Homo sapiens: one gene and its partners. The protein of the gene in region 2 purifies or fractionates together with the protein of the main gene of each other region. This does not show direct contact. Each region holds a gene or a part of one and is shown on either strand. Other genes may lie near its edges. The genes, in order: ADGRG5, LRRC8A, TRDN, TMEM169 and TPST2.

Region 1 (6,266 bases), on a different chromosome or scaffold from region 2:
TTTCCATGTCAATAAGAGCAGAGCTTCCACTTTTTCATCTGCATATTCTAATGTTGTAGGAATAAGTTACAGTTTATTTAATTAGTCCCGTGTTCATAGATATTTGTGCTGGTTCTAGTTATTTGCTCTTACAAACAATGTAGCTGTGCTTATATTATTTCTCACATGTGCAAGTTCACCATTTATTTATTTTTATTTTTTGAGACAGAGTCTTGCTCTGTCACCCAGGCTGGAGTGCAGTGATGTGATCTCTGCTAACTGCAACCTCTGCCTCCCGGGTTCAAACGATTCTCCTGGCTCAGCCTCCCGAGTAGCTGGGATTACAGGCACGCTCCACTGCGCCTGACTAATTTTTGTATTTTTAGTAGAGACAGAGTTTCACCTTGTTGGCCAGGCTGGTCTTGAACTCCTGACCTCAGGTGAGCCTCCTGCCTCGGCCTCCCAAAGTGCTGGGATTACAGGTGTGAGCCACCGTGTCTGGCTCTATTTATTTATTTTTGATACAGGGTCTCATTCTGTCACACAAGCTGGAGTGCAGTGCCACCATCATAGCTCACTGCAGCCTCAAACTCCTGGGCTCACGTGATCCTCTCACCTCAGCATCCCAAGCAGCTGAAACTACTGGGTGCATGGCACCATGCTCAGCTAATGTTTCTGATTTTTAGTAGAGACAAGATCTTGCTATGTTGCTTAGGCTGGTCTCGAATTCCTGAGCTCAAATGATCCTCCTGCCTCAGCCTACCAAAGCGCTGAGATTACAGGTATGAGCTACCACGCCCCGCCATTTGCCCATTTTTATATTGGGTTAGACTTTTCCTTATCAATTTCTAGAAACTTTTACATAATGGGAAAATCAGCTCTTGTCTATTGTACATATATAAAACTATTACATGCAAATATTTTTCCTAATTTGTCACTTGTCTTTTAACATTACATATGGCCTTCTTTTGGCCAGGTAGAAGTGTCTTTTTAAATAATTTTTATGTAATAAAATGTATCTGTATTTTCTCTTTTGGCTTCTGGATTTTGAGTCATAGCTAGAAAAACCTTCCCCACTCCAGTGTTTTCTTATTTGGTTTCTGTTTTTTGTTTTTGAGACAGGGTTTTGATCTGTCACCCAGGCTGGAGTGCAGTGGCACAATCATAGCTCACTGCAGCCTCAACCTCCCGGGCTCAAGTGATCCTCCCACCTCAGCCTCCCAAGTAGCTGGGACTACAGGTGTGCGCCACCATGCCCAGCTAATATTTTGTAGAGATGGGGGTCTTGCTGTGTTGCCCAGGGTGGTCTCCATCTCCTGGGCTCAAGTGATCCTCCTGCCTTGGCCTCCCAAAGTGCTGGGATTACAGGTGTGAGCCACTGCACCTGGCCTGTCCAGATTTTGCATGTAATAAAATATATGGATTTTTTTTCAAGAATGGGATTAGGTTGTTTTGCAATGTGCTTTCTGTCTTTCATGAGCAATATGCCACTATTATTTCTTCCATATTGATAGTCATTTGGAGCATTTAAAAATCCTATTAAAATATTTGTGTTTTTTTTGTTGTTGTCATGAAGGTAATATGTTTGTTGTAGAAAATTTAAACAATACAGAAAATATAAAAGGAAGTTTTGAAAACACCTCTCCCCTCAAAAAAGCATTATTAACATTTTGGTGGCCACCCTTCTAGAGCTCCCAATATGCTTCAGCATGCATACAAACATAATTTTTCATAAATGAGATTATGTGTGTTATTTTCAACCTGTCCTTTCCACTCAGTGATATGCTGTGCTCTTCTTTTACATGGCTTTGTTTTTTGTTTGTTTTTGGTTTTGTTTTTTTTGAGACGGAGTCTCGCTCTGTGGCCAGGCTGGAGTGCAGTGGCGCGATCTCGGCTCACTGCAACCTCCGCCTACTGGGTTCAAGCGATTCTCCTGCCTCAGCCTCCTGAGTAGCTGGGATTACAGGCGCCTGCCACCAAACCCAGCTAATTTTTTTGTATTTTTAGTAGAGACGCGGTTTCATCATGTTGACCAGGATGGTCTCAATCTCCTGACCTTGTGATCCGCGCCTGCCTCGGCCTCCCAGAGTGCTGGGATTACAGGCGTGAGCCACTGCGCCCAGCCTGTTTTTTGTTTTTTGTTTTTGGAGAAGAGTCTCACTCTGTCATCCTGGCTGGAGTGCAGAGGTGCCATCATAGCTCACTGAAGCATTGAACTCCTGGACTCAAGCAGTCCTCTTGCCTCAGCCTCCTGAGTAGCTAGGATTACACGTGTGCCAACACGCCTGGCTAATTTTTATATTTTTAGTAGAGATGGGGTTTTTCCATGTTGCCCAGGCTGGTCTTGAACTCCTGACCTCAAGTGATTTGCCCACCTAGGCCTCCCAGCGTGCTGGGATTACAGGTATGAGCCACCACGCCTGGCCTCAAAATATTTTTTAGAGAAAGGGTCTCACTATGTTGCCTAGGCTGGTCTTGAACTCCTGGCCTCAAGCGATTCTCCTGCCTTAGTTTAGGATTACAGGTGCAAACCATGGTGCCTGGCTATACACATCTTTTTTTTTTTTTTTTTAAAGAATACACATAATTCTTAATAGTGAAATGACAATCTGTTGCATATTTTAACTTTTAATTTTGAGAAAATTATAAATGCACAGAAGGTTGCAAAAAATAGTACAGAACGTTTTGTATACCCTTCACTTATTCTCCAGTAGTAACATCTTGCATGCCTATAGTATAATATCAAAGCCAGGAAATTGTCTTTGGTATAGTTCACAGACTTCATTCTGTATTATACTCACTCATTTATGTATGCCGGTTCTTTGGTAAGTATATTTTAACTTTATAAGAAACTGCCAAATGGTTTTCCTTGCAATTTTATGACATGATAAAATAAAAGATTCCTGTAAACAACACCACGATCAAGACACAGAACTGTTCCATCGCCACAAGGATCCCTTGTGCGAGACCTTTAAAGAAACACACTCCCCCTCCCTAACCCTTTGCAACCACTAATCTGTTCTCCATCTTTATCATTTTGTCATTTCAAGACTGTTAAATAAATTGAATCACACAGCATGCAACATTTTGAGATTGGCTTTTTTTTTTTTTTTTTTGGCTCATGATAATTCCTTTAAGATCCATCCAAGTTGTGTGTGTCAGTAGCTTTTTTTTAGAAATTCATTTTTTTAACTGCTGAGAATTGTATTTCAGAGTGTAAAGGTATCACCATTTAACCATTTTCACCCACTTTGAGGCTATCATGAATAAAGCTGCTATGACTCTTCATATACAGGTTTTTGTGTGAACACGAGGTTTCATTTCTCTGGGATAAAAGCCCAAGAGTGCAATTATTGGGTCATATGATAGGTACATGTTTAGTTTTATAAGAAACTGTCGAACTGTTTTCCAGAATGGCATTGGAGTGTAATTTATTTATTCCTCTATTGATAGACATTCACATAGCTTTCAACTTTTCTTTATTAACAATACTATTCTAAATATTCTTGTATGTGTATAATCCTGGCTTGCCCTATTCTTTCCATAGGATAAATTCATAAGAATGAGTTTCCTGGCTTAAAGGATATTCAGAACGTAAAGTTCGAATGTGTTGCTAAGCCGTCCCCTTGCAGATGAGGCTCAGATCTTAGACAGAGAGTGCAGGAATGTGCCTGTCCCTACAGACTCACTGGGTGCTATCATATTTCAGATCTTTGCAGATCCAATGGTGGAAAAATGAGAACTCATGTTCTTAACTACTTTCCTCTGCCACTACCATCAAACACATATTTTGAGTTTTGTGGCTCTCCCTCTTGAAGCCTTGCAAGTTTTTGTTGACTTCCTTTCTCTAAGAGGAGGATCATCAGTTCTCTTGCCCTCCCTCCCCTATTTCCTCTTCTTCATCCTCTTAATATGTTTTTTGATTGGATTTCTAAAGTCTTGTCTATAGAGGTATACATACAATAAAATTCACCCTTTTGGAGAGGAGTTTTTGCATTTTGACAGATGTGTACAGTCATGTATACATGTATATTACAATCAAAATATAGAACATTGCTGTCCCCTGAAAAGTTGTCTCAGGCCCTTTTGTAGTTAATATCTTTTCCCTACTCCCTGGCAACTACTGATTTGTTCTCTGATCCAATAGTTTTGACTTTTCTAGATTCCACTTCCATGTTACATTCCCTCCAGAAATGAATGAGGCTTCCAGCTGTTCTATATCCTCATAATACTTTGTATTACCATTTTAATCCTAGTCATTCTAGAAGGTGTGTAGTGATATCTGATTGTGGTTTTTATATGCATTTCTCTAATGACTAATGATATTGAGTGTTTCTCATGTGCTTATTTGCATCTATACATTTTTTTTTTTAACATGTAGTTCCAGCTCTGTCACCCAGGCTGAAATGCAGTGGCATGATCTCAGCTCACTGCAGCCTCCTCCTCCTGGGTTGAAGCAATTCTCCTGCCTTAGACTCTTGAGCAGCTAGGATTACAGGCACATGCTACCACACCTGGCTAATTGTTGTATTTTTAGTAGAGACAGGGGTTTCACCATGTTGGCCAGGCTGGTTTCAAACTCCTGACCTTGGGTGACCCACCCGCCTCGGCCTCCCAAAGTGCTGGGATTACAGGCATGAGCCACCGCGCCCGGCCCATCTATATACATCTTCATTGGTATAGTGATTGTTCAAATCTTTTCCTATATTTATTGGGTTGTTTGTCCTCTTATTAGTTGTGTAAGAGTTCTTTATGTAGTCCAGATACAATTTTTTAAAAACATCAGATATGTGTTTGTAAATATTTTCTCCCAGTCTGTGGCTTATCTTCTCGTTTTGCTAACCATGACTTTCAAAAAGCAGAAGTTTTAATTTTGATGAAATTCAACTTATCAGTTTTTTGTTGTTGTTGTTGCCATGGATCACGTTTTTGGTGTTGTTTCTAAGAAATCTTTGCATAACCTAAGTCAGAAGGATTTTCTTTTTTGTTTTTTCCAAGGAGTTTTACAGGCATATCTTGGAGATATTGTGGGTTTGGTTTTAGACCACCACAGTAAAGCAAATATGGTAATAAAGTGAGTCACACAAATTGTTTGGTTTCCCAGTGCATATAAAAGTGATGCTTACGGCCAGGCACGGTGGCTCATGTCTGTAATCCCAGCACTTTGGGAGGCCGAGGCGGGCGGATCATGAGGTCAGGAGATCGAGACCATCCTGGCCAACATGGTGAAACCCCATCTCTACTAAAAATACAAAAATTAGCCGAGCATGGTGGTGTGTGCCTGTAATCCCATCTACTTGGGAGGCTGAGGCAGGAGAATCACTTGAACCTGTGAGGTGGAGGCGGAGGTTGCAGTGAGCTGAGATCGCACCACTGCATTCCAGCCTGGGCAACAGAGCGAGACTGTCTCACACATGAAAAAAGTTATGTTTACATTATACTGTAGTCTATTTAGTGTACAAAAGCATTATGTCTAAAAATGTACATACCTTAGTTAAAGGACACTTTATTGCTAAAAAGTACTAGCAATCTATCTGAGCCTTCAACAAATCACACGCTTTTTTGCTGGTGGAAAGTCTTGCCTTGATGCTGATCAAGGTGGTGGTGGTTGAAGGTTGGGGTGGCTGGCTGTTTCTTAAGACAGCAGTGAAGTTTGCCACATCAGTTGACTCTTCCTTTCATAAGATGTTTTTCTGTAGCATGTGATGCTGTTTGATAGTATTTTACTCACGGTAGAGCTTCATTCAAAATTGGAGTCCGTCCTCTCAAACCCTGCAGGGGCTTTATCCACTACATTTATTTAATATTCTAAATCTTTTGTTGTCATTTCCACAGTGTTCACCATATCTTCACCAGGAGTAGATTCCATTTCAAAAAACCACTCATTGTTCATCTATGAGAAGCGACTCCCCATCCATTCAAGTTTGATCATGAGACTGCAGCAATTCAGTCACATCTTCAGGATCCACTACTAATTCTAGTTCTCTTGCTATTCTAATCACATCTGTAATTACTTTCCCCACTGAAGTTTTGAACCCCTCAAAGTCGTCCATGAAGCATGGAATCAACCTCTTCCAAACTCCTGTTAATGTTGATATTTTGACTTCTTCCCATGAATCACAATCACATGTTCTTGCAGCATCTAGAAGGGTGAATCTTTTCCAGATTTTCAATTTACTTTGCCCTGATCCATCAGAGAAATCACTATCTATGACAGCTATAGCCTTATGAAATTTGTTTCCTAAATAATAAGACTTGAAGGTCGAAATGACTCCTTGATCCATGGG
Region 2 (6,266 bases):
TCCTTTGGCTCTCTCTGGTGGCTGGGCCACTCTCCCAGCTCCTGGCTCCCCGAAACCCGTGTCGTAGTGATCACAGCTTTCCCTACCCTGCCACTCCCATGCACAGTTCTGCACAGTGTCTGGCGCATATGGAGTAGATGCTCACCAGAGGCTGGTTGACTGTCGGAGATGATGGGTGGATTTGGTGTTTAAGTTGGAGTCTGGGCACTGGCTGGTCTCTGCCTGACCCAGCCACCCCACTGTGGCTCATCTCTTGCCACTTCCCCTCTCTGGCTCTGGATCTCGCCATGCCGAGCCCGCAAGCCTTCTCCAGATGCCATGTACTCTCTCCTCCAGGTAAACATGTGCTGTTCCTCCTGCCTGGAATGCTCTTTTTCCAGCTCCTACTCTTAGGAGTCAACTCAGACAACTCCTCCTCCAGAAAGCCTTCCCTGACCCCACTAGTCTGGGTCTAGTGCTTCTCCTGGCTCCCCCGCAGCAGAGCTCTGAGCTCTCAGACCGTCGCTACTGACTTGGCACCTCCTCAGTAGACCAGGTTCTGGAGGGAGGTGCTCTGTCAGAACCTCTTTTGTCTGCCAGGCGCGGTGGCTCATGCCTGTAATCCCAATACTTTGGGAGGCCGAGGCGGGCAGATCCCTGGAGGTTAGGAGTTTGAGAGCAGCCTGGCTAACATGGGGAAACGCTGTCTCTACTAAAAATACAAAAAATTAGCCAGGCTTGGTGGTGCGCACCTGAAATCCCATCTACTCGAGAGGCTGAGGCAGGAGAATCACTTGAATGCGGGAGGCGGAGGTTGCAGTGAACCGAGATTGCACCACTATACAAAAAAAACCTCTTTTGTCACCCCAGAGCCCAGCCAAGGGCCTGCTACCAAGCAGGCTCTCAGGAAGTGCTGGCGGTGTGGCAGGTAACTGCGACAGTCACACATGTGCCTGCTGACGGCAGCTCTCGCTTCCTTGTAGGGAGGCAGCGTCCATGGAGCAAAAGGAATGCCAGGATCCTGCACAGGCAGACGCGGGCCAGCCTCAGCACCGACAGCCGACGCGCAGATAGCAGAGCCATCCTTGGGGTAAGGACTGGGCCCCTCTCCTTCTCAGCCAGCTCCAGCTCCAGTCAAGTGCCCTTCCCAGCCTGGGGAGCAAAGGGTAGCATCTCCATCCCCACAGTCCTTTGCTTTTCTTGCTGTAGGTCCAGGGTAGAGTGGCAGACAGCAGAATTACTCTCTTCCTCCTTCTCCCGCTGAGTAATGTGTGCTTGCCGCACTCATTGAATGCTGAGTTGTTTCATTGCAAACCTCTGTTTTTTCTCCTTCACCCCAGATCTTATCAGTCTGGGTCTTGCTAATGCAGCCTCATGACCACATTTCCCAAAAAGCGTGGACCACGTTTCCCAAGTGTGTTCCATGAGACACCAGTTTCTTCGGTCACAGTGGTTTGATAATTCCAGGAAACAAAGACTTCTTGTTATCCTTGCTGCAGGACTTATCAGAGTCTTGAATCAGAGCCGTCATCAGGATTGAGCTGATCACGATAAGGGAGCTAGCGACTCGTGTTTCCCCACACTTATTTGATCGTGTAGACATCTTTGGGGACTGGGATTCCTTGGCCTGTGCTTTGGAAAACAGTTCCCAGAGGCAGGAGAGTCCCTTTAGAACATTTGGAGGATTAAATATGTTGACATAGAGCAGGCAGTTGGCAGAGTGCATGTCCTAGAAGGTGGTCCCGAGTCATAGCTGGTGTGTGTATAGACGGCTGTGTAATTTGCCAGACATACTCAGGTCGGTGATCTCATTTGACCATTTGAGGATGCTTAGGCAGTGGCCATTATCTCCAGTTTACAGATGTGGAAACTGAGAATCAGAGTGAGGAAGCAGCTTGCCCAGACTCATCTGTAAAGAAGGCAAGGACATGCGGCTTGAATCCAGACCCTGGAATCCTGGGCCAGGGTCTTCTGTTGTCTGCCCTGAGGCCTTCCTGCCTTTATCTCTCACCTCAGTTTTTTGTGTGAAGGAAGGCCTGAGTCTCCCAGCCTGGATTTTAAAAGAAATAGTAATTTTTTTTTTTTGTAATTACCAACATAGTTGTATATTCATTATATGGTTTTATACTGTTTGGCTATTTTTGGGGGACAGGGTCTCACTCTGTTGCCCAGGCTGGAGTGCAGTGGCACCATCATGACTCACTGCAGCCTCGATCTCCAAGGCTCCAGCGATCCTCCTGCCTCAGCCTCCCAACTAGCTGGGACTGCAGGTGTGCACTACTGTGCCCAGCTAATTTTATTTATTTATTTATTATGGAGATAGAGCCTCTCTACATTGCCCAGGCTGGTCTCGAACTCCTGGGTTCAAGAGATGCTCCTGCCTTGGCCTCCTAAAGTGCTGGGATTATGGGTGTGAGCCACCATGCCAGACCTGTTTGGATCTTTAATGTCATCTAGGAAATGAGTCTCTGCTGATTCTCATCTTCAGAGGTGTGAATGGGAAGGGGTATATTCTTCCACATCTATTGTTACCATTTGCTTATTTTTATAAAAATCTGGTCATGTTTGAGTTGCTGATTCACAGTTTGCTTTTGTTTCATATAATGATATCCCCCGGACCTCTTTTTTTTTTGAGATGGAGTCTTTGTCACCCAGGCTGGAGTGCAGTGGCACAATCTCAGCTCACTGCAAGCTCTGCCTCCCGGGTTCACTCCATTCTCCTGCCTCAGCCTCCCGAGTAGCTGGGACTACAGGCGCCCGCCACCACGCCCGGCTAATTTTTTTTGTATTTTTAGTAGAGACGGGGTTTCACCATGTTAGCCAGGATGGTCTTGATCTCCTGACCTTGTGATCCGCCGCCTTGGCCTCCCAAAGTGCTGGGATTATAGGCATGAGCCACCGCGCCCGGCTCCCCTGGACCTCTTTCCCATGCAAGAGGTAGATAGAGCTGTGTGTGGTCCTGGCAGAATGCACACCCTTGAGCCCCCCTGGCCCCTCCCCCTCACATGCTGGGAGTTTTGAGCTGTTTGGGCATTTACAGCAGCAGAGGGAGGTCGGAAGTGCCTGGTGTGTGATTGTGTCGACTCTCCTGTTTATGGGATAAGGTCAGCCAACTCCTGGCTCTGCCCCATAGGAGTTTCCTGTTGGTTTTGAGGAACTCTGTCCCCTGGAGAGAGGGGAGGCCTGAGCTGTAGTCTTTCATGCTGGGCAGCGCTGAGCAGGAAGCAGCAGGTCCTGCTTGTCAGATCATAATTCCTCCTTTTTGCCAAGGATGGCGTGGAATGAACCGCATGGGCCGGCCTGAGGGGTTTTGGCCTCCACCCACCACCTGGGTTCAGGGGACACACATGAATCAAGCTGAGACAAATTGAGTCTGAGCCATTGTTCTCCTGAGCCCAGCCCTTCCTGGGGATAGGAAGGAACAGGCAGACCCTGACTCAGTTTACCCTTGCTGTATCTGGAGGAAGTGTTGGTTGTGGTCCTTTTGGCATGCTCCTTTCAAGTTTTAGTTCTGAGAGTGGGCAGGTGAGGAGCAGGAGGAGGGCCCACCCTGCCACCTGGGTCCAAAGATGCTCTCTTTTGGGGTATAGCTGACCTCAGGAAGGGTTTGGGCAAGGAGAGCATACAGGCGTGGCAGCCTCGTTTTGCGGGGCTGCGAGAGCGTCTGGCAGGATCGCGCTGGGAGTGAGGTCTGTGCCAGAGCTCCTGACATCTCACCTGTGTTTTTCAGGCTCACTGTCCTGTCGCTTTCCCTCCCCCACGTCACTTCCTCCATTCTTCCCCAGGAGTCTCTTTTCTCTCCCATACACTGCTTGGGAGAGAGCTGCAGAGCTGGCCCCTCCACAGATGGTGCTCAGCGTCTCTGGCTTCTCCTTCCTGCAGTAGCACCTTCATAGTCCGTGGTCATTCTCAGCACCATGTCTCAGTGCTGAGCCACAGGCTGGGATGCTGCACGCATTTGCCCATCTTACCTTCGCCACAGCCTTGCGTGTGAGGTTGCTTTACCATTTTACAGACCAAGCCCCAGAGGGATGAGGTCTCTGGCCCAAAGTTATACAGTGTACATGTGGCAAAGCTAGGACTTGAACCCAGGTTGGTATGGCTTGGCAGCTGGGGCTCTTTCTACTTCACCCTCCATTACCCTCTTTTCTCAGGTTCCCAGGCTTTTGGGGGCCTTCAAAGTCACCTGGAAGCTTGTCTAAAATGCTGTTCCCCTGGGCCCACCACCACAGACCTGCAGAGTCTGCCCTGGAAGGTTGGCCCCAGGAATCTGAACTTTGAAGATGCTTCCCCAGCAGTTGTGAGGCTGGTGGGCTACAAACAATGCTGAGAAACACTGACCGGACGCCATTCTTTCAGCCTTAGTCCCAGTCGTCTACCGCAGAACTCATGCCCTTGGTGTGGAAGCAGGGCTGAGCTCCCCACAGGACTGGGACTGGACAGGTTTTTTTTTTTTTGTTTAATTAATTAATTAATTATTTTGAGATGGAGTGTTGCTCTGTCACCCAGGCTGGAGTGCAGTGGCACAATCTTGCTCACTGCAACCTCCACCTCCCAGGTTCAAGCTATTCTCCTGCCTCAGCCTCCCGAGTAGCTGGGACTACAGGTGCCCGCCACCATGCCCAGCTAATTTTTGTATTTTTAGTAGAGACGGGGTGTCACCATATTGGCCATGGCTGGTCTCGATCTCCTGACCTTGTGATCCACCCACCTTGTTCTCCAAAGTTCCAGGACTACAGCCGTGAGCCACTGCGCCTGGCCAATTTTTTTAATTTAATTTTACTTTTTTGAGATGGAATCCTGCTCTGTTGCCCAGACTGGAGTGCAATGGTGCCATCTTGGCTCATTGCAGCCTCTGCCTCCTGGGTTCAAGTGATTCTCCTGTCTCAGCCTCCCAAGTAGCTGGGATTACAGATGTGCACCACCACGCCTGGCTAATTTTTGTATTTTTAGTAGAGACGGGGTTTCACCTTGTTGGTCAGGCTGGTCTCGAACTCCTGACCTCAGGTGATCCACCCACCTCGGCCTCCCAAAGTGCTGGGATTACAGGTGTGAGCCACCGCACCTGGCCAGACAGTTGTTTTTTAGTGGCTTCATTTTGTGTGTGTGTGTGTGTGTGTGTGTGTGTGTGTGTGTGTGCTGGGAAGGCGAGGGGCTTAACCTTCCCTCCTCAAGGACGTGTGGGGCTGAGGTTTCTAGAAGGGCTTTTACTCCCAGCCACAAATGTTCCCTGCTGTCTTCCAGATGCGTTTCTGTTGCGTCTTGCGTCTTGCAGCAAGTTTGTCTACATCTAAACGTCTCTTGAGGGCTTAAAACCTCAAAATTAAATTGCTTGCTGCAATCTAAGCCTCACGCCTAGAGCAATGTTCCAGTGGAGTAAAAGTGGCTGTAAAATTCCATAGCTTTCACGTGCCACCTGGACGCCGTCAGAGTGCCACTGCCAAACCTGCGCCCTCTGACGGGCAGCATGACAAACGCACTGACCAGCAGCGGGGGCGGTGGGCGGGAATCCTGGCCCTGAAGGGACACCTCGCATCTCCCAGCTGACTCCATGAGTCAGGATCCCTGGGGGTAGCCCCCTTCCATCCCAGAGAGTCGGGTACCAGGCAGCTCACCCTCTGTCAGACCCCCCAGTCCTCCCCCTGGCTCACCTAGGGCTTGGCCAGTGCCCACTCCCCTGGGATCTCAGCAGAAGATGTGTCTGCTGCCTCTCTAGGGTACTGGTGGCCACATTTCATAACCTGTCTAAGAAGGCAGCGCTGGTATTCATAACAGGTTAAGACCTGTAAACCGTGTGTGGCCGTGACTCCATGTGCAAATATGAGCCAACAAACGTTGGCTGGACGTGGCGGTTCCCACCAGTAATCCCAGCACTTTGGGAGGCTGAGGTGGAGGATTGCTTGAGCCCAGGAGTTCCAGACCAGCCTGGGCAACATAGTGACCTGTCTCTACAAAAATAAAAAAAAAATTAGTCCAGGCACAGTGGCTCAGCACTTTGGGAGGCTGAGGCAGGTGGATCACCTGAGGTCAGGAGTTCAAGACCAGCCTGGCCAACATGGTGAAACCCCGTTTCTACTAAAAAATACAAAAATCAGCCGGGTATGGTGACATGCACCTGTAATCCCAGCTACTTGGGAGGCTGAGGCAGGAGAATCACTTGAACCCGGGAGGCGAAGGTTGCAGTGAGCCGAGATTGTGCCACTGCACTTTAGCCTGGTGACAGAGTGAGATCCCGTCTAAAAAAAAAAATTAGCCAGGTGTGGTGGCATGTGCATGTAGTTCCAGCT
Region 3 (6,266 bases), on a different chromosome or scaffold from region 2:
AGGCTATGAATTTTAACAAGTTTAGTCATCTTTCCATTCTCCTTCCTTTTTTCATGCACCGTATTTTTCAGACACTTAATGTTCAGCCTGGTGTAAACCACTGAATCTGCTGGCAAAGATGGATGCAATGAAAGCTCTGACACACACATACGTCTATCCATCTTACTCCCGATGACATGATACAACCTTCTGAATGGCCTAATCCTAAAGTCTTGAATATTTATGATGCTTAAATTTTCTGGCTCTTTCTCATTCGCTCAGACTGCAAGAGCTATTGTGGATTGTAATAAAGTAAGAAAAATACACAACGAAAGAACTGAGTTAAAATTTACCAGGCAGCTCTTTTCAACTTGCAGAGCTTTAGGGAAATTTAAACATGCGACTATAGGGGGAATTGTAATTTGTTTTGCTGTAAGTGAGGAATCTCTTCCTCTGCCATTGACATGCATCAAGTACAATCTCATAGAACATCATCCTCTATATTGGGTCTAGCTTATCCTTAAGGACAATTTCTTATTTCAAAGAGAAAGTAGTTAGCAAGAAAGGAAATTAAACATAATGTAGATTGGCTTCTGGTGTTTTCCTCTAAGGCAAGAGATAAACCTATAGCCCATAAGGCCACCATGGTCCTAAAATTAAAGATCAGTTTCTCCTGTCCAAAAAACTAAATATGCATAACTCTGAATGACTACGATTATTCTTTCTTAACTTTAAAGCTAGATGTCAGGAAAAGACATTACAAAACCTAATTCCTTGTTAGGAGCCTATTATTATCTTCTAAAATTACATATTCCAAAGGATATAAATGCTGTAATTATTATTCTTATATACAGATATATTATAGATGGAGGTTTAAGTGAGAATAAACTGTAAAAAGGAGATAGAGATAGGTGTATCTGTTAAGTTGCACTTAAAAGTGTTAATACCAGTATTTTATTAGTAAAATAAACCAGTCATAAACCAGTATTTTATCTTTGAACATAAATAGAGAAAAACACTAAGATACCTATGCTGAAAAAAACATATATTTTTTAACTTTGCTTTAAGACTTTTGGGTTTTCGCTCTCTCTCTTTCTCTCCCTCCCTTTTTCTTTCTCTCTGAGTGTGTGCATGTTTGCGTGTGTGTGTGTGTGTGTGTGTGTGTGTCTGTCTGTCTGTCACTGCGTCTGGCCCTGGTTTTAACTTTAACTTTGGGTCTTTATGAATAATTAAGGGAATTAAAATTTATATTTCTAAAAAATAGATATCATTACTATTATTCACATTTTCATATGCTTTCAGTTCAATTTATTAATAACATCATATAAAGATTTACCCTCTTCTTTATCAAATATACAATGCCCCAACTATTCTAGCTTATTTACTGCCTTATTTGATCATGTATTCATTAAATTTTTAACTGTGGTATTTGCAGGACATTTTACTAAGTAAGGTGATCTTTTACACCTTTGCAATTACGTAAGCTATAAAATAACATGTTGCATTGATCCTGATGCTAGCAATACCACATCAAAACTCCATTACTGTCATTTACTATTTTATTTAATAAATGTTCATCATTAGTCTTTGGGAATGTGGTAAGCAAATAGTACATGTTCTCTTCCACCAGCTCATTGCTTGGCTCATAGAAAACACTTGAAAAAGATTAATTGAAAAAAATACATTTGTTGATTGAGTTTAATCCCAGAAGGCATAAAACATGTCCGAATTCTGTATTAGTGATTAGCTAAGGATATACATTGTACCGTCGTGAATCTTAGACCTCTGTGCTTTGCTCTCACTCAGAAACCTAGGAGTTACCCAGAAAGCAAAATGTTTATTTTCTATTACAATCATGCTCAATTTTTTCCCTTTTATATTTCTTAGAAATTTTGCAAAACTCTGCATCCCTTCCTACAAGTTCTAAAATTTTTCATCATAAGTTGAAGGATTACAAGTGATATAATTTATAGATTATTGTAAATGTTGACATTTAAAAATAAAGTTGCCATATCCCTTTTAAAAACTGAGTTGATGGACTCCAAACACTATAATATTTTTAGATGTCATTATCAACTTAAAATATTTATCAAAAAATTATTTCTTAACATTTGGAAGGTTTTCATCTTTCTCTTTTCTCTTTGAATTCATATTTTCATTCCACCTCTCTCACGAAAATTTTACCCAAGAGCTACATTATGATTCTCTAAGGAAAAAAGTGTACATATTGAAAATTTTAAATTTCCTCCATATTCTGTGATTTCACATCCTGTAATATATTAACCTTTAGACTATAAGAATCTAAGAATCTAAAGGTTAATATATTGCAAATCTTCATAAGTTATTATTAAACCTGAAAAATGAATTTTTTTTAGAATGCCATCGAATGAATGGAGCTTTAAAATCACCTATCTGTGGATTAATGTATTTTACAGTTAGAATGAGACAGCGTTCATCAATAAATCTAACCCTATATTTTACTTTTAAAGATACAAGTATTGAGAAGCCTTATGCACATCTGTACATACACACACACACACACACACACACACACACACACACACACACACACAGTCTTATTGGGGCAATGTTACTTAATTTTTTTGTCTCCTTCCAAGTAACGTTGAATACCACAAAGAACCAACAACAGATTTATTTATATTTGAAGTGGAAATAGTACGGTTATAAACCGGGCATGCTCTCAAGCAGATCAATTTTAGGAAAACATTCAAATGACATTCAATTCCTTTAAATCTCTCTGCAGTTTTATACCCCTTAGAAAGTGAGGTGCTAACAGATCCATGATGTATACCCTGGTGTGAAAAATATTGCTTAAAAGCACACTTCCAGATGTGCAAAGTATACCACTATACACAACAAATAATTTTTTCCGAAAATGTGATTTATAACAGTATTTGGTTTTCATACTTATAATTTTTAGACAACTATGTAATAAAATATAGTATTTTCTAAAGATTCAGTGCCTTGGGGTCTCATCATGAAGTGTTTAGTAATAGAACTTAGTATTTTAAAATTTTGACAAGTTGAAAAATATGCATGAAGAATATAAAGACACTAGGTACTACATGTAATACCCTGAAGCTATATTTATATATAACAACAGATTCCACAGGCTAGCAGAATCAAATATTTCATCCATATTAATAATCTGTTTAATAATCAATACTGCAACCCTGAGATTAGTCGACTACACCATTATTCCATACCAAATTAAAAACTGCAAACTTCAACCATAAATAACAAACTGGCTGAATTTTTATTTTGTTAAGAATAGCAGTAACTCAACAAATAAAACTAAGTGTATTCAAATAAAATGTTTTAGGTAGATATAGGGCAGTTGAATAAAAAAATGCTACAGCCTGATAATTTAGGCAATAAAAAATGACTAAATATTATTGAATATATATGAATTGAGAAGGGTATTAATGAAGAGTCATTTAGATGTGTAAAAATCAAATGTTTTAAAAGACTATCATTCTACATTGCCCCCAAATTCCTTCTTAAACCAACATTTGTAAATGTAAACATGAGTAAAATAACTTATAAGACAAGAATAATTTATAGAATTTCTCCCCAATAATAATGTTAAAAGTATACTTAAAATGTAGAATATGTATTATAAATGTTTTATAAAATATTACCTACTGCTTTAAAGCTCTCATTGCCTCTATACTTCCATGAAAGAAAAGCTTACACATAAAAAATAATAATTACAATGAAATAGATCTTCTTGAATTCACTTTCAACTAAGGTTTATTATTACATAGCCTCTGTACCCAAGATAGAGCATCTGAGATTTTTACTTAAATGTCAATTTTTTTCATGTAACTGTGTGAATAATACTATTAAGAAAATATATTCAGGTGATTTAAAGTCAATTCTCCTAATTCTGAGTATGTAATCTTTAAGGACATTAGTGCACATGTGTTGAAGGACATATATCCCTTAGACTATTTTTGACTAATAAACATTTCTAACATTTTTTAAAAGTACCCTAAACAACTATTTAATAGTTTTTCTGGCAAAAATTTGATTTGCTGAATCAAGGAAATAATTTAAGAAACAATAGTAAAACAGCTTTGTATGAATTTGCAGTTTATACTAATTACTATATGAAGCTTAATTTTAAAATAATTTCAAAGAAAAATTTAAATCAAAAGAAAAGATTTTTTATTAAATAGTAAATATCAATTTATGAAAAACATGGCTTTATAATAGTCTTATGGAATTCAGTTTATAAGTATAAATGAGCAAACATTATTTATCTGTTTTCCCTTCTTCCATTTCCAATGAAAATAAACGTGCATAAGCTGTTATTTCCAGATAATGACTAATAACTCACTTAAAGCTTGACTATGTTCACTCTCTATGGGAAATCAGCTATAAATCTCTTGAAGTTTATAGACAAATCTAGAATCTCTAAACCTGGATTTGATGGCTGAAGTCTGTCTTGAGTACTTGAGTTCTCATTCTGGATTTGCAGGTGTATAAACCCTTCCTTTCTCCTCACAGAGCTTTATAAACACTTTCATTTCTGGATGCCTTTGCCATAGTTGAGTTTGACTGGCTTAGCTCTTTTTTGCTGTGTAAGTTACAAATCCAAAGTTTCTAATTTAACATACACTAAGTGGATTTTACCCCAGATAGTGTGGGGTAGTCATCATTTTCTCAGGGAAGGCTGAAACTGTAAGTTTGGATCCCATTGTTTGAATCCACAGTAGGTATTAGGAGAGAGCAACAGAAGCCAGGGTTATCTTCCTGGGTAAACCCTCAACAGCCTGCCCATGTGTAGCAGTAACTAAAACACTGCAATTGTTTTAAGTCTGGCTTGAATGTTGGCTGTTTTCTCACAACAAATGTACCTCAAGATGGTACTACCTGCTCCCCAGTGCCCCTTCCAGATGCAGTTCCTACCCCTTCCTGTCAAAATCTCTGTCTTCTGAAATTCCTGCCCCATTGCTGTCCTCCTTTGTCCTAGGTTTATCGTTCTTATCATTCAGGTTGTGACCACTTCACTCAGTCACCTTATCTATTCCTGCAAGTAATTCCTCTACAGCACATCCAGGCACATCCAGGTAACTCCACTCCATGACAGTGACACATCACACATACCAACTGGATATGCCTTTGCCTCCTAGGCTGTTATGTCCCTCACCGTCTTGTTGTCCTGGCCCATAGTCATCACCTAACATGCAAAATAATGATGGCAAAAAAAATAAAAGGAAAAGAATAAGAATAAACATTTAAAATCAATAAATCTGACCATGGTGAGAATAAATCATGGGTGTCATTTTCTGGGCCATTTCTAAGGCTACAGAATTCTCCCCTCATTCCTCAAATTCCAGCTCATATTGGTCTGTGTATAAATGAATCCATACAAATCTACTGAATAAGGCATTTAAAAAATAATCAACAGAAAAGTAGTGAGATCACCTTCATTGGAAAAGAAATTGAGTATTTTTTTTCTGACTATAAATCTTGACCTAATTATTAAACAAAACCTTTATATTAAAATAAGTAAAATATATTTGAACCATGCTGAAAACCAATATTACCATAAGAGAAAAATAATTATTATCAAAGGTGAAAACAACTAACCTTTTTTTCTCAAGGGAGGCTCATCTATTTCTCCTAGACCAAGATTAAAAGAAAAACAAAGTTAGAAAATATTTTAGCATAGAATAATATGACATCATTATTTTCCCCTTTTGTTTATTTAAAAAAATCTATTAGTTTTAACAATCATAGTCTTTACATTACTTTGCTTCCCAAATTCCAGTTTTTAAGTATAAAGTTTGTTTATATACATTTATATAAGATTGTTTCATTTTTATGAATTCAATAAAATTGTGGCAGTGATCCAAATTATACATTATAGGTTATATATCATATTAATTTCAACTCTCTATTGTTCATGTTGAACTCTTACTGGGGCCAAAACAAATATAATTTCAGGAAAAGTTATAAAAATACTCTAATAATAAAAGCTTTCCTGGTAGTCAAGGCTGAATACATGATTTCTGATGACTAAGACTGACCCTAAAAAGTGTTATCTAATAGATGGAATCACAGTGCTTTGTTCTTTTCATACTCATTCAATGGCAGCTTTTATGTGGTTTGAGATGGCTATTTCCTTTTATTCATTAATATATATGAGAGAGCACATAGGTTAGTTGCATAATTGTTAGGACATTTAGAATGTGTCCTTCTATTCTACACCACCATTTGGTCCAATAAATTTACTCTTTTGATTGTACTTTTAGTAA
Region 4 (6,266 bases), on a different chromosome or scaffold from region 2:
GAAAATTGCTACTGAATCCTAGGGTGGGGTGCAAATACGGAGAGCCTCAAACACCAGACAGGCCTTCAGATATATTTTAGTCAGTAATGGCAAGACAAAATAAAAATATTGTTTTGTTTTGTTTATTAATCACCATTAATATGGTAAAAAATGGTAGAGGAATGTCTTCCATTTTAGAATGTCTTCCAGTTTAGAGGAAGTAGTATGAAGGCTGTATTCTGGCATATGGTGGTAGTAGAAATTCAAATGAACAAATTAACAAAAAGATTTCATAGGAATGACTAGCAGGACTTAGAGACTAATTATTATTAGGTATATGGAAATATGTCCTTAATATAGGAAATGGGTTCATCAAAGAACATTCTAGAAGTTTATAGATCTTTGCATAAATGTTGGCGGGTAGTATGGCACAATGAAAATAACATGGGCTTTGAAATTAGCAAACCTGGGTGTCAGTTCCAGTCCCACCACTATACTAGCTATGTAAGCTTGAGCAAATTTCTCCTCTAAATGGGAATAATAAAGGTACCTACTTCACTGGTTTGCTGTGAATATTGAACAATACGATTATTGTAAAGTACTTAGAGCAGCACTTGGCACACAATAAACATCCAATAAGTTTCTGTTGTTACTATTATTCAGTCCAAGTGTCCTCTTCTGCAAAATAATACTTGCTTCATAAAATTGTTGTACCTAGGCTGGTATGGTGGCTCACACCTGTAATCCCAGCACTTTGGGAGGCCGAGGCAGATGGATCACTTGAGGTCAGGAGTTGGAGACTAGCCTGGCCAACATGGTGAAACCCTGTCTGTACTAAAAGTACAAAAATTAATTGCACATGGTGGTGTATGCCTGTGGTCCCAGCTACTCAGGAGGCAGAGGCACGAAAATCGCTTGAACCTGGAGGCTGAGGTTGCAGTGAGCTGACATTGCACAACTGCACTCCAGCCTGGGTGACCAAGCGAGACTCTGTCTCAAAAAAAAAAAAAACAAACAGGCCGGGTGCAGTGGCTCACGCCTGTAATCCCAGCACTTTGGGAGACCGAGGCGGGCAGATCACAAGGTCAGGAGATCGAGACCATCCTGGCTAACACGGTGAAACCCCGTCTCTACTAAAAAAGAAATACAAAAAATTAGCCGGGCGTGGTGGTGGGCGCCTGTAGTCCCAGCTACTCAAGAGGCTGAGGCAGGAGAATGGCGTGAACCCGGGAGGCGGAGCTTGCAGTGGGCTGAGATCACGCCACTACACTCCAGCTTGGGCGACAGAGCGAGACTCCGTCTCAAAACAAACAAACAAACAGACAAAAATTGTTGTACCTAGAACAACTATGCAATATATAGCACATAGTGTTGCTTAATAAATATTTACTGAAGCTGGGCACAGTTGCACATGACTGTAGTCCCAGCTACTCAGGAGGCTGAGGTGAGAGGATTGCTTGAGCCTAGGAGTTCAAGTCAAGCCTGGGCAACATAGAAAGACCCCATCTCTAAAAATAAATGAATACGTAAATATTTTTTGAATGTGTAATTCAGTGAGATAATGCATGTACTGTATAATCAACACAGAACCTACCAAATTACACAATCGGTAAATTCCATAAATGTTGTGGTGTTTCCTTCTTTATCCCTTTCTCCTTTCCTTTCCCCCTTCTCCTTTTTTCTCGGTAACACTGAGAGGTTCTCTGCTGTAAATAAAGATGAGTTTGGTTTGAACATGCTTTGCTAAATAATTCAATTAGAAAATATTCGCCAGGCTATTGGAGATACAATCTTGAGATCTACATTTGGGCGTTCTTGGCATAGAAGTGGTCCTACAGCTGTGTGCAGGAAGGCTGTATATTTTAACAAGAGGAACAGAGTGTGCTGTTGAGAATAGAGGACAATGAATTAAGAATCGGGCCTAGAAAACACTGGCAATTATGGGTTGGAGAAAGCAGATAAGGGAGCAAAAGAAACAGAAGGAAGGTTTGAGAGGTAAAAGAGAATGAGAGTAGAAAGTTAAAGGAGGTGAGGGAAGGTTCAAGAAAGATTTGGGAATTAGTGGAATCAACAGCTTTGGTGTGACAAGGAGAATAAGAATGGTGAAGTGGTCACTGTGATCACATCAGGGACTTTCAAGACTGTTTCTCACCAAAATGAGTGGATCTGTCATCAAATGAAGGAGAAATAGGGTTTTGGACAGCAAACAACAGAACCAAAAAACCAAAAACCATCAGCTGTTCACTGCAGCTACTACCACTTGACTACTTCTATTTTTAATTTTCATTTTATTTTATTTTACTGATTTTATTTTTGAGACAGAGTCTCACTCTCTCGCCCAGACTGGATGCAGTGGCACGATCTCAGCTCACTGCAACCTCCACCTCCCAGGTTCAAGCGATTCTCCTGCCTCAGCCTCCTGAGTAGCTGGGATTACAGGCGTGCACAACCACGCCAAGCTACTTGTATTTTTAGTAGAGACAGGGTTTCACCATGTTGGCCAGGCTGGTCTTGAATTCCTGACCTCAAGTGATCCGCCCATCTTGCCCTTCCAAAATGCTGGGATTACGGGCATGAGCCACCACACCTGGCCTTGACTTCTTCTAAATCTTGGTGGGGAAATCCTGGACTTTAGAGTTATGCAAGTATAGAATTAAACCCAAGTTCTCTCACTGCTATATTTAACGCATTGAACCTAATAGGTCAAGTGTGGAAAATAAGACCTACCTGTCAAGCTTGTTGAGAGATGCAAGTAAGAGAACATCTATAAAGAGTTTACCTTACAGCCTGACACATAAGGCTCAATAAATGCTAATTTCCTGGCCTATTTCTCATCTTTGCAAGTGACTTGCGCGTGTGCGTGCGTGCATGTGTGTGTGTCTGTGTGTGTACAGAGGTTGGGAGTGGGGAGAAAGGGCAGAAGATTGCAGGATGAACTGGATATGAGTGGCTATAAACTATTTGATAGAAAAGCTTGGTTGGAGAAAAATGAGATTATCAGAGAGAGTAAAGTGGCAAGGTAAAGTTATTTTTTTCTAGATAAGGAACTCTGAGTTTGAAGGCAAAGGGGAAAGAGCCAGTAGAAGGAAGTTGGAGCTATTGGAGAAGGAGGAAATCAAAGATGAGGAAGAGATGGGGATCAAGAGTCAAGTTGGGGTGGTCAAAGAAAATACCTGTTTTCAGACCACTCATGCTGGGGAAGGCCAGCCACTGTTGTAAGGACACTCAGATGGCCCATGGAGAGGCCCATGTGGAGAGAAACTGAGTCAGCATTACATGAGTGAACCATCTTGGAAGCAGATCTAGCCTCATTCAAGCCTTCAGATGACTGCAGCCCTGACATCTTTAGAGATCTTGAAACAAAACCAGCTAAGCCACTCTCACACTTCTGACTCAGAGAAACTATTTATAGGAATCCCACAGAAATGTTGAGAAAATTCTATTCACAGAATACTAAAAGGTTCAGAAACCATAAAAACAAAAAAACACTTTTGGACCTCCAAATTCTATAGGCAGGAAGCAGGTAGAGAAGACTACTCACCACCCAGCTAAGGCACTCCCAGTTTATTGACGCACATAATTGTGTGAGATAATAACTTTTTTATTGTTTTAAACCTTTACTTCTTGGGTAATTTGTTACATCACAACAGATAATTCATATTCTTGTACTGTGACATCTGATATATTCCAGACTTGCAGGAAACTAACAGTAAAAAGGATCCCCAAATTTAGGAAAACACTGTTTTTACAGTAGCCTTGATAACAAGTAGCCACCAGAACTAGTTTTAAACATGTTCAATCAACAACTGCCTAAGTGAATACATTTTTGAAAGCCATCATCAGAGTGCCAGACCCTGATTGGCCAAAAGTCAACTCACACTAGTGTGAAAGTCAGCCAAACAGGGACAGAGCCACTCACCTGATTGACTTTCAGAAACAAAGGACTGACTGGATGGGTTAATTTCCAAAAACATGTTTGCTGAGTGTTATGGTATGGTTTGTTTTCCCCCCAAATCCATATGTTGAAATTTCAGCCCCCAAAGTGATGGCATTAGGTGAGGCTTTATGTCATGACGGTGGAGTCCTCAGGAATGGGATTAGTGCCCCCATAAAAGAGACCCAGAGGCTAGGCTCAGTGGCTCACACCTGTAATCCCAGCACTTTGGAAGGCCAAGGCGGGCGGATCATGAGTTTGAGAGCAGCCTGGCCAATATGGCGAAACCCCATCTCTACTAAAAATACAAAAATTAGCTGGGCATGGTGGCGTGTGCCTGTAGTCCCAGCTAATTGGGAGGCTGAGGCAGGAGAATTGCTTGAACTTGGGAGGCAGAGGTTGCAGTGAGCCAAGATTGCGCCACTGCACTCCAGCCTATGCGACAGAGTGAGACTCCATCTCAAAAAAAAAAAAAAAAAAAAAAAGAGAGAGACCCAGAGAGCTAGTCAGCTCCTTCAGCCACGTGAAAACACAGTGAGAAGGCACCATCTATGAACCAGAAAGTGAGTCCTACCAAACCCCTAAACTTGATCTTGGATTTTTTGCTCCCAGAACTGTACAAAATAAATTCTTGTTGTTTATAAGCTACCTAGTCTATGGTATTTTCTTATGGCAGCCCAAATGCACTAAGACACTGAGGGAGATTGTTGTTGATCAATTGAACAGGTTTAAAACTGGTTCTATTGTCTACTTACCATGACTACAAAATAACCCATCTTTTCCTAAGTTTGTGGGAATGTTTTGTAGTCTCAAAGGATAGTGTTCTAATTGTAGGGAGATGAGGAAATCATGTTTCAAGGTAAATCAAGGACAGTGTCTCTGTCCTGTGACTACTGTAAGTAGACATTGGCTGGGCACCTTTCTAAAATGAGCTGTGCCTGAAGCAAAAATAGCCCCCCTAAGGTGAATAGCCAGGAGCTCACCCTTTACATTTCATATTTCTTGTCTAAGGTTTTAATGGGATGTTCAAAAGTCATCTCTCTTTTTGCCTCTGATAGGATTGTCCCTCTCCTCCATCAGCCAACAAGATGACCATGTTTATCTTTTATATCCCCAAGAGACTCCAAAGCTTCTCTTAGCTACTATTTTCTGTACTAGTCTGTCCCTGGGCTCAGGAAGCTCTTCCTGTTATCTAACATTGGCCTCTCCCATTGTGCCCAACCAAATCAAGAGTGTCGAACACTACACCTTTTTATGTTTTTTTTTAATTAAATTAATTCTTTTTTTGAGTGATTCGCCCGCCTTGATCTCCCAAAGTGCTGGGATTACAGGCATGAGCCACCGCACTTGGCCACTTTTTAATGTTTATAAGGCCCATTAATAAGGGTCATCATCTCCATGCATGTGTTCACTTTGCCCTGCCACATCTTCCTAGAGCACCACCCCCTCAACAAAGAGAGAGGAAAAGGGAACAAGAAGTATGAGATTTGCAACTTGCCTTCTCACGTGTACTCTTTAACATTTCTGTCTCCCTTCTGAACATCTTGGTACATCTTTAAAGAAGGAGTAAGGAGTACAGAACATAAACCTTCTCCCAGCTCTGAAGCTCTGGTCCTTTAATCTCCTCGGGGTCTCAACCCCTAGTTTGAAAATTCATGCTGTATAGAAGGGCCAAAGAAGGCCCTTCACAAGCTGCCTCAGAAAACAACAGAGAGAAACAGATGATCTAAGTAGGAAAACACGGTGGATTAGGGTGGCCTCCCAAGCTGTGATCATTGCACCTTCAAGTAAGTACAAAGTGGTTTGTTCAGAGGTCATTCCTACCATAGAATTACCATGATGCAGCTTTCTGAGTGTCAGTGTATAAGAGGACTTGGACCAGGGAAAACATTTTTGTATTAAACATAGACACTTAGAGAGTAGAATTACAAATGTATGTATATACACATTTGTATATAAATATACATATGTATAAGTACATATATAGATATACATATATATGTATATCCTGGAACTTAACGTAATAATGAAGTGTGTGTGTGTGTGTGTGTGTGTGTGTGTGTGTGTGTATACATATAAAATCTTCACCTGGGGGTGGATTGCATTCAGCCTCCCCATTCAGTTTCCTCTGGGTAGAGGTCCACTGTCCTCTGTGTAGAAGCCACTTTGGTAGAAGAGCCCTGGTCAAGCTCATCAATGCCCAAGGCCTGCTCAGCATTCTAATGGTTGGATTAATTGTCCTCTGGAGCTATTTACCTTGGGAGGGCTCTCTCCCCTGCTTCTTCCTGTGTACATCCTTGTACTTTTAGACACCTCAGCCAAATGAATCTCCTGGTCCAGAAAGCTCCATGGA
Region 5 (6,266 bases), on a different chromosome or scaffold from region 2:
CATGGTCTTGCTCTGTTGCCCAAGCTGGGTGCACTGGTGCAGTCATAGCTACTGCAGCCTGATACTTCTCGGCTTAAGCCATCCTCTCACCCCAGGCTCCTGAGTAGCTAGGACTGCAGGTGCACGCCACCATGCACAGCTAATTTTAATTTTTATAAAGGCGGGGTCTCGCTACGTTGCCCAGGCTGGTCTAGAACTCCTGGCCGTAAGGGATGCCCCTGCTTCACTCTTCCCAAAGTGCTGAGATTACAGGTGTGAGCCTCCAGTGACTGACAAAATGCTTTTGAAGTGTTAAAGTAGGCTAACACCCACTGGGTAAAAGAACAGTTAACAAGTTGATGGCCTTATTTATACGTTTCCATTACAGCTTCTAGTTTACTTTAAGTGCTGTGTTCTAACTTCCTTATAGGCAAATATTTGAAAATGGGACCCAGGCCTGAGGAAGAGCTTTCACAGCCCTTACTTCATTAAGACCCAGAGTCTTTAATTTAAGCTAAGCTCAGCATTTCTGAGCGTGTGCTGATTTTAGGAAATAAACAGTTATCGTATTGAATCACAACGGAAAAAAGTTAATCGTCTCTTAGTTCCGTAACTCTTCAGTTGGCTCAAGAAGAAAGTTTCCATTTGGTGCTAAAAAGTCATTACCACCTCTCTAGCACTCACTGATCTCTCTTTAACAAAGAGAATTTACTAACGCTGAGCTTTGGGGGCTGTGCCCTTGTAATTGAAGTGTAAGCTTTGTCTGTGGGTCTCGTGAGTTCCTCTTCCTCTTGACATTAGTTGATTTTGCAGACATCTATTTATGGAAATACTCAGAGATTCAACGTACATACCAGCCGACATTGACAGGTGAATGGCTGCAACCCAGATGTGGTTTGTTATTTTTATTATAAATATTATTAATTTTTATTTTATTATTCTTTAATAATAGTAATCTTTAAACCCTACTTATGTGTTTTACATACTTTTATCTGCCTGTGGGTTGTACATGTATTATCAAAATAAAAAATTAATTAACTGGATTAAAAAGATGGTAGTGATCTCACAATCCAGCCCCAGGTGCTTCTCAGAAGCAGAGGCGAGGGCCGGCTGGGGACACTGCAGTAGTGGGCTGGATGTTGCTTACTTCACTGTTCTCAGCCAAGGGCCCAGCAGTGGCTCCTCTGGGGTCTCCTTAAAAGGTGGCTCGCTGCCCCTGGCTTGCCCCAGGCTATGGGTCGGACGTTCCTGGAGTAAAGCCTGACTTTATGTATTTTATAAAACACAAATAATTTTCATGAGCACTGGTGGTTAACATCAACTCTTTGGAGCTTTTTGTGTTTGTTTATTTAAAATGGAAGCTGTCTCTCATTTTCATCCAAAGAGATTTCTTCCCTGGGGCGGTCAACAAGTCTTGGCAAGTGCTAGATCCCTGGTTTAGTTTTTGCCATAGCTTGGCTGTTACTGCAAAGAAAAGTCCTCTCACTAAGCCCTGTGAGTTTGCATGCATGCCTGTGTGCTTCTGTGAGTGCTGTGGACCCTGTGTGTTCCAATAATGGATCCTGGGGCTCAGTAAACACAGTGGCTAAAAGGACATCTATGCTGATGAAATCGTCTCTGCCTGCAGTGTCCCATACGGTAGCCACTAGCCATGTGTGGCCCCTGATTCTGTAACAGGAGGCTAGTCCAAAGTGAGAGGTCCTGTTAGGTGTAAAATACACACTAGATTTTGAAGGCTTAGGACAAAAAAGTATGTAACGTTTCTTATTAGTCACTTTTATATAAATTACATATTGAAATGTTAATATTTTACATAGGCTGGACATGATGGCTCATGTCTATAATCCTAGCACTTTTGGAGGCCAAGGCAGGCAGACTGCTTAGCCTAGGAGTTTGAGACCAGCCTGGGTAACATGGTGAAACCTCATCTCTACTAAAAATATTGAATATTAGCCAGGCATGGTGGCACGTGCCTATAGTCCCAGCTACTCAGAAGGCTGAGGTGGGAGAATCACCTGAGGCTGGGAAGTGGAGGCTGCAGTGAGCCGTGATCGCACCACTGCACTCCAGCTTGGGCTATGGGAGTGAGACCATGTCTCAATAGAAAAAAAAAAAAATTAGCTATATCAGGTTAAATAAAAGATATTGTTAGAATTAATCTCCCTTGTTTCATTTTATTTTAAAATGTGACTACTAGCGGAAAGGCCTGAAATGTTGTGGTTCTAACTTCAGGGCCTTTGCTCTGTTGCCTCTGCCTGGAGTGCTTTTTCTTCTGAGCTTAGCCTACCTATTTTTCCTTGTCGTTTGGGTCTCAGCTCAAAGGTTATCTATTTCAAGAGGCCCTTTTTATTTTTATTTATTCACTTTCTTAGAGACAGGGTCTCGCTCTGTCACTCAGGCTAGAGTGGAGTGATGTGATCATACTTCACTGCAGCCTCAACCTCCCGGGCTCAACCAATCCTCCAGCTGAGGCTGGAGTAGCTCCAGAGCAGCTGGGACGATAAGTGCATGCCACCATGCCCAGCTAATTTTTAATTTTTTAGAAATGGGGTTTCAGTGTGTTTCCCAGGCTGATCTCAAACTGCTGGACTCAAGTGATCCTCCTGCCTTGGCCTCCAGAAGTGCTGAGATTACAGGCATGAGTCACTGCGCCTGGCCCAAGAGTCCCCTCTTGACCACCCACTCAAAAGAAGCCCCCTGGTTACTCCTAATCCCACCTCTTTACTGTACTTTTTTCACAACAGTTCCCATGGTTTGCTATGTCCTTGTTTATCTGTGTTTATTTTTCTTGTATGTTATCTGGTGCCCCCTCTAGAATGGTAGCTCCAGGGGAACAGGAATTTCCATTATCTGGTTAACATCATGTCAACCAGACACAATGCTTAGAATAATGCCTAGAAGAAGAGGAGCTTAAGCAATGTTTGTTGGATGGAGGGATGGGTGGGTGGCGAGGTGGATGGGTGGATGACTGGATGTGTTGGGAATGACTAAATTTTATTTTTTGGCCATTTTCATAATAGTGATATTTCTTTTTCTCTTCCTTAGGTCTTGAAAGGGGACTATAAAACACCAGCCAATCTGAAAGGATATTTTCAGGTTAGAAACCCCAAGGGGAATTCCGAATTCTGTCTTTCTCAGCTATACCACCATCTGGCTGTATGCCCTTAGATGTGTCACTTCTCCACTCTGGTTGATGGTTTTCCCATTATAAAAAGGGGGATGTGAGCTGGCTGCCTGTAATCCCAGCACTTTGGGAGGCCAAGGCAGGCAGATCACGAGGTCAGGAGTTCAAGACCAGCCTGACCAAAACGGTGAAACCCCGTCTCTACTAAAAATACAAAAATTATCCGGGCGTAGTGGCACACACCTGTAATCCCAGCTACTTGGGAGGCTGAGGCAGGAGAATCGCTTGACCCTGGGAGGCAGAGGTCGCAGTGAGCTGAGATCACGCCGTTGCACTGTAGCCCGAGCGACAGAGCGAGACTCCATCTCAAAAAATAAAAATAAAAAATAAAGGGCTGTGGGGATGCGTGCTGGACCAGAGGGTCTCTAAGCACTGATCCAGCTGGGGCCACATCTCAGTGGCCCTTCTGCCAGGAAGCAGCCTCTCACTTCGTCTTCCGGCTTGAATGCAGTTGGAGGGACTTCGTGGGGACTTTTTCTTGGGCTTTCTTTCTTGTTGAGACTGGAGTGCAGTGGTGTGATCATGGCTCACTGCAGCCTCAATCTCCTGGGCTCAAGCAATCCTCTCACCTCAGCCCCTCAAGAAGCTGAGACTACAGACACACACCATCATGCCCGGCTAATTTTTGTGTTTTTTGTAGAGACAGGGTTTTGGCATGTTGTCCAAGCTTGAGTTGTATTATTTATAATAAACAGGTAGCAGTTAGTAAAGTGTTTTCCCTAGTGTCTTGTGAGCTGTTCTAGTGAATTATCAAACCAGAGTGGGGGTTGTGGGAACCTCCAGATTTGAAGTTGGCTGGGAAGAAGTGTGGATAGCCTGCGCACCCCATTGCAGCTGGCATCTAAAGTGGGGCAGTCGTGGAACTGGGCCCTTAATCTGTGGCAGCTGATGCTAAGTAAGTCTGGGAGCTGGTGTCAGAACTGAACTGAATTGTTGAACACCCAGTTGGTATCCAGATAATCAGAGAATTGGTCACTGATATTGGAAAGCACCCATAAGCCAATATCTGAAGGATTAAAACTAGGTCTGCCACACAAAGATCTGGATAGAAAAGGCTTCCCGGCAGAGGGAACTGTAAACGCCTGAAAGTGGGGAGTGTGGCCGAAACCTCTGGAGTGCGTATGCACTTTTGCATTCGTTGCAATTATATTTTTCTTTGTTTCTACCCCAATGTGATTTACAGGAATGTTCATTGCAATTTTCATGTTCAAACTGCCTTGTTTTGCTTTCTTAATATTTTCCTATCTTTTGAGTTTCACCGGCACCATTTTGGATGGCTACGTAGTGTTCTGTGGAATGCATGTGCTACCATTTACTAAACAGCTTCTTCAAGACCATTTCCAGTTTTTACAACATCCAGAATGACATTATGTGCACAGTGGAGGACAGTAGGGAGATGAGGGTTGGAAATAGAGGCTTGACAAAACTTATCTGCAGGGCAGCCCTCCTGAGCGTGGGGGTATGCCATTCCTTCATATTTTGTTCCTAAAAGCAACAAAAACCAGTCCCAGGTCAGCTAGACATCTTGCATATGTCATACACGGCAGGAAGTATAAACTGGCCCAACCCTTTTGTTTTTGTTTTTGTTTTTGTTTTTGAGATGGAGTTTTCCTCTTGTTGCCCAGGCTGGAGTGCAATGCGGTGATCTCGGCTCACTGCGGCTTCTGCCTCCCAGGTTCAAGCAATTCTCCTGCCTCAGCCTCTCAAGTAGCTGGGATTACAGGCACCGGCCACCACGCCTGGCTAATTTTTGTATTTTTAGTAGAAAGGGGTTTCGCCATGTTGGCCAGGCTGGTCTCGAACTCCTGACCTCAAGTGATCCACCCACCTCGGCCTCCCAAAATGCTGGGATTACAGGCGTGAGCCACTGCTCCTGACCCCAACCCTTTTGTAAAACACTTTTAGCCTTGTTGTTCAAGAGTCTTCAAAAGATCTGAACCCTTCCACCTGCTCCTGCTGATTCCTTTTTTTTTTTGAGATGGGGTTTCACTGTGTCACCCAGGCTGGAGTGCAGTGGCGCCATCTCAGCCCACTGCAACCTCCACCTCCCGGGTTCAAGCATGATTCCATTTTTTAGAAGTGAATTCTAAGGGAATGATTCAGTAGAGCTTCAGTACCCAACAGAAGAGAGGCAGAATCAGGATGTGATGTCATTTAAAATACTGCAAAAATTGGAACCATTCTTAGGTAAGCAGTCAGTAAACGGTGGTACATGCACTCCACAGAATATCTGTAGCCATCCAAAATGGTGCTAGTGAAACCCAAATGATGAAAAAATAGTAAGAAAGCAAAACAAAGCAGCTCATACTATACAATTGCAACTAATGTAAAAATGCATATTCAGGTGGACAAAAAAAGGCAACACGCAGGAGTTGGGTGCAGTGGCATGCCTGCAGTCCCAGGTTCTCAGGAGGCTGAGGTGGGAGGATCGCTGGAGCCCCTGTCTCTTAAAAACAACAGCAGCAACAACAACAACAAAAACGAAGGCAACGTGCAAAAATGAGAAGTTTCAGTTTGTGGATAATTCTCCTCATCCCCACTGTGTTGTTCTGCCTACATCATCTTTTTGGTTAAAACAAATACTAAATTAGTGCTCACTAATTCTGGCTACTTTCTTGACGTCAGCAAAAGATAGATCTCTGATTCCCACAAAGGGAGTGGGACCTCTCCCCAAACAACCAGGAAATGCTCAAAAGCCATGGTCCCTAGCTCTCAGATCGCATTAATTTTTTTTTTTTAAATTCAAGGCCAACACAGTGAGACCCCATCTCCCTACAAAAAAGAGAAAGCCTTAGCTGGGTATGGCACATGTGGCACATGTTCGTGCCACTGCACTCTGGCCTGGGTGGCAGAGTGAGACCCTGTCTCATAAAAAAGAATACAACTCAGGTACAGTCAAATGCAAGAAGCGTAGGGTGAGGTATGGGGGATGGGTCACAGAACATCCATGCCCTTTCCCGGCATGACACCCTCCCAGCCTCTCAATGTGTTTACCAACCAGGAAGCTTTCCAAATTCTGTCATTTAGAGATTTCATCATAGAGGCATGACTGATTAAATCATGGGTCATGGGTGATTGCCCAATCTCCAGCTCCTAGCCCCTA

Evidence for each region.
Region 1: the proteins of LRRC8A (region 2) and ADGRG5 purify together in Homo sapiens (co-immunoprecipitation; one large-scale study listed by IntAct). This does not show direct contact.
Region 3: the proteins of LRRC8A (region 2) and TRDN purify together in Homo sapiens (co-immunoprecipitation; one large-scale study listed by IntAct). This does not show direct contact.
Region 4: the proteins of LRRC8A (region 2) and TMEM169 purify together in Homo sapiens (co-immunoprecipitation; one large-scale study listed by IntAct). This does not show direct contact.
Region 5: the proteins of LRRC8A (region 2) and TPST2 purify together in Homo sapiens (co-immunoprecipitation; one large-scale study listed by IntAct). This does not show direct contact.

Annotation. Positions count from the first base shown.
Region 1 is NC_000016.10:57,545,643-57,551,908, forward strand, and holds part of ADGRG5 (adhesion G-protein coupled receptor G5 isoform 1 precursor), read left to right. Parts: intron 1-6,266. UniProt on the Homo sapiens protein: Orphan adhesion G-protein coupled receptor (aGPCR). Ligand binding causes a conformation change that triggers signaling via guanine nucleotide-binding proteins (G proteins) and modulates the activity of downstream effectors, such as adenylate cyclase.
Region 2 is NC_000009.12:128,885,053-128,891,318, forward strand, and holds part of LRRC8A (volume-regulated anion channel subunit LRRC8A), read left to right. Parts: exon of another isoform or gene 1-336; intron 337-962; 5' UTR 963-1,069; intron 1,070-6,266. UniProt on the Homo sapiens protein: Essential component of the volume-regulated anion channel (VRAC, also named VSOAC channel), an anion channel required to maintain a constant cell volume in response to extracellular or intracellular osmotic changes.
Region 3 is NC_000006.12:123,541,742-123,548,007, forward strand, and holds part of TRDN (triadin), read right to left. Parts: intron 5,632-6,266; coding exon 5,599-5,631; intron 1-5,598. UniProt on the Homo sapiens protein: Contributes to the regulation of lumenal Ca2+ release via the sarcoplasmic reticulum calcium release channels RYR1 and RYR2, a key step in triggering skeletal and heart muscle contraction.
Region 4 is NC_000002.12:216,087,182-216,093,447, forward strand, and holds part of TMEM169 (transmembrane protein 169), read left to right. Parts: intron 1-6,266.
Region 5 is NC_000022.11:26,529,504-26,535,769, reverse strand, and holds part of TPST2 (protein-tyrosine sulfotransferase 2), read left to right. Parts: intron 1-3,024; coding exon 3,025-3,075; intron 3,076-6,266. UniProt on the Homo sapiens protein: Catalyzes the O-sulfation of tyrosine residues within acidic motifs of polypeptides, using 3'-phosphoadenylyl sulfate (PAPS) as cosubstrate.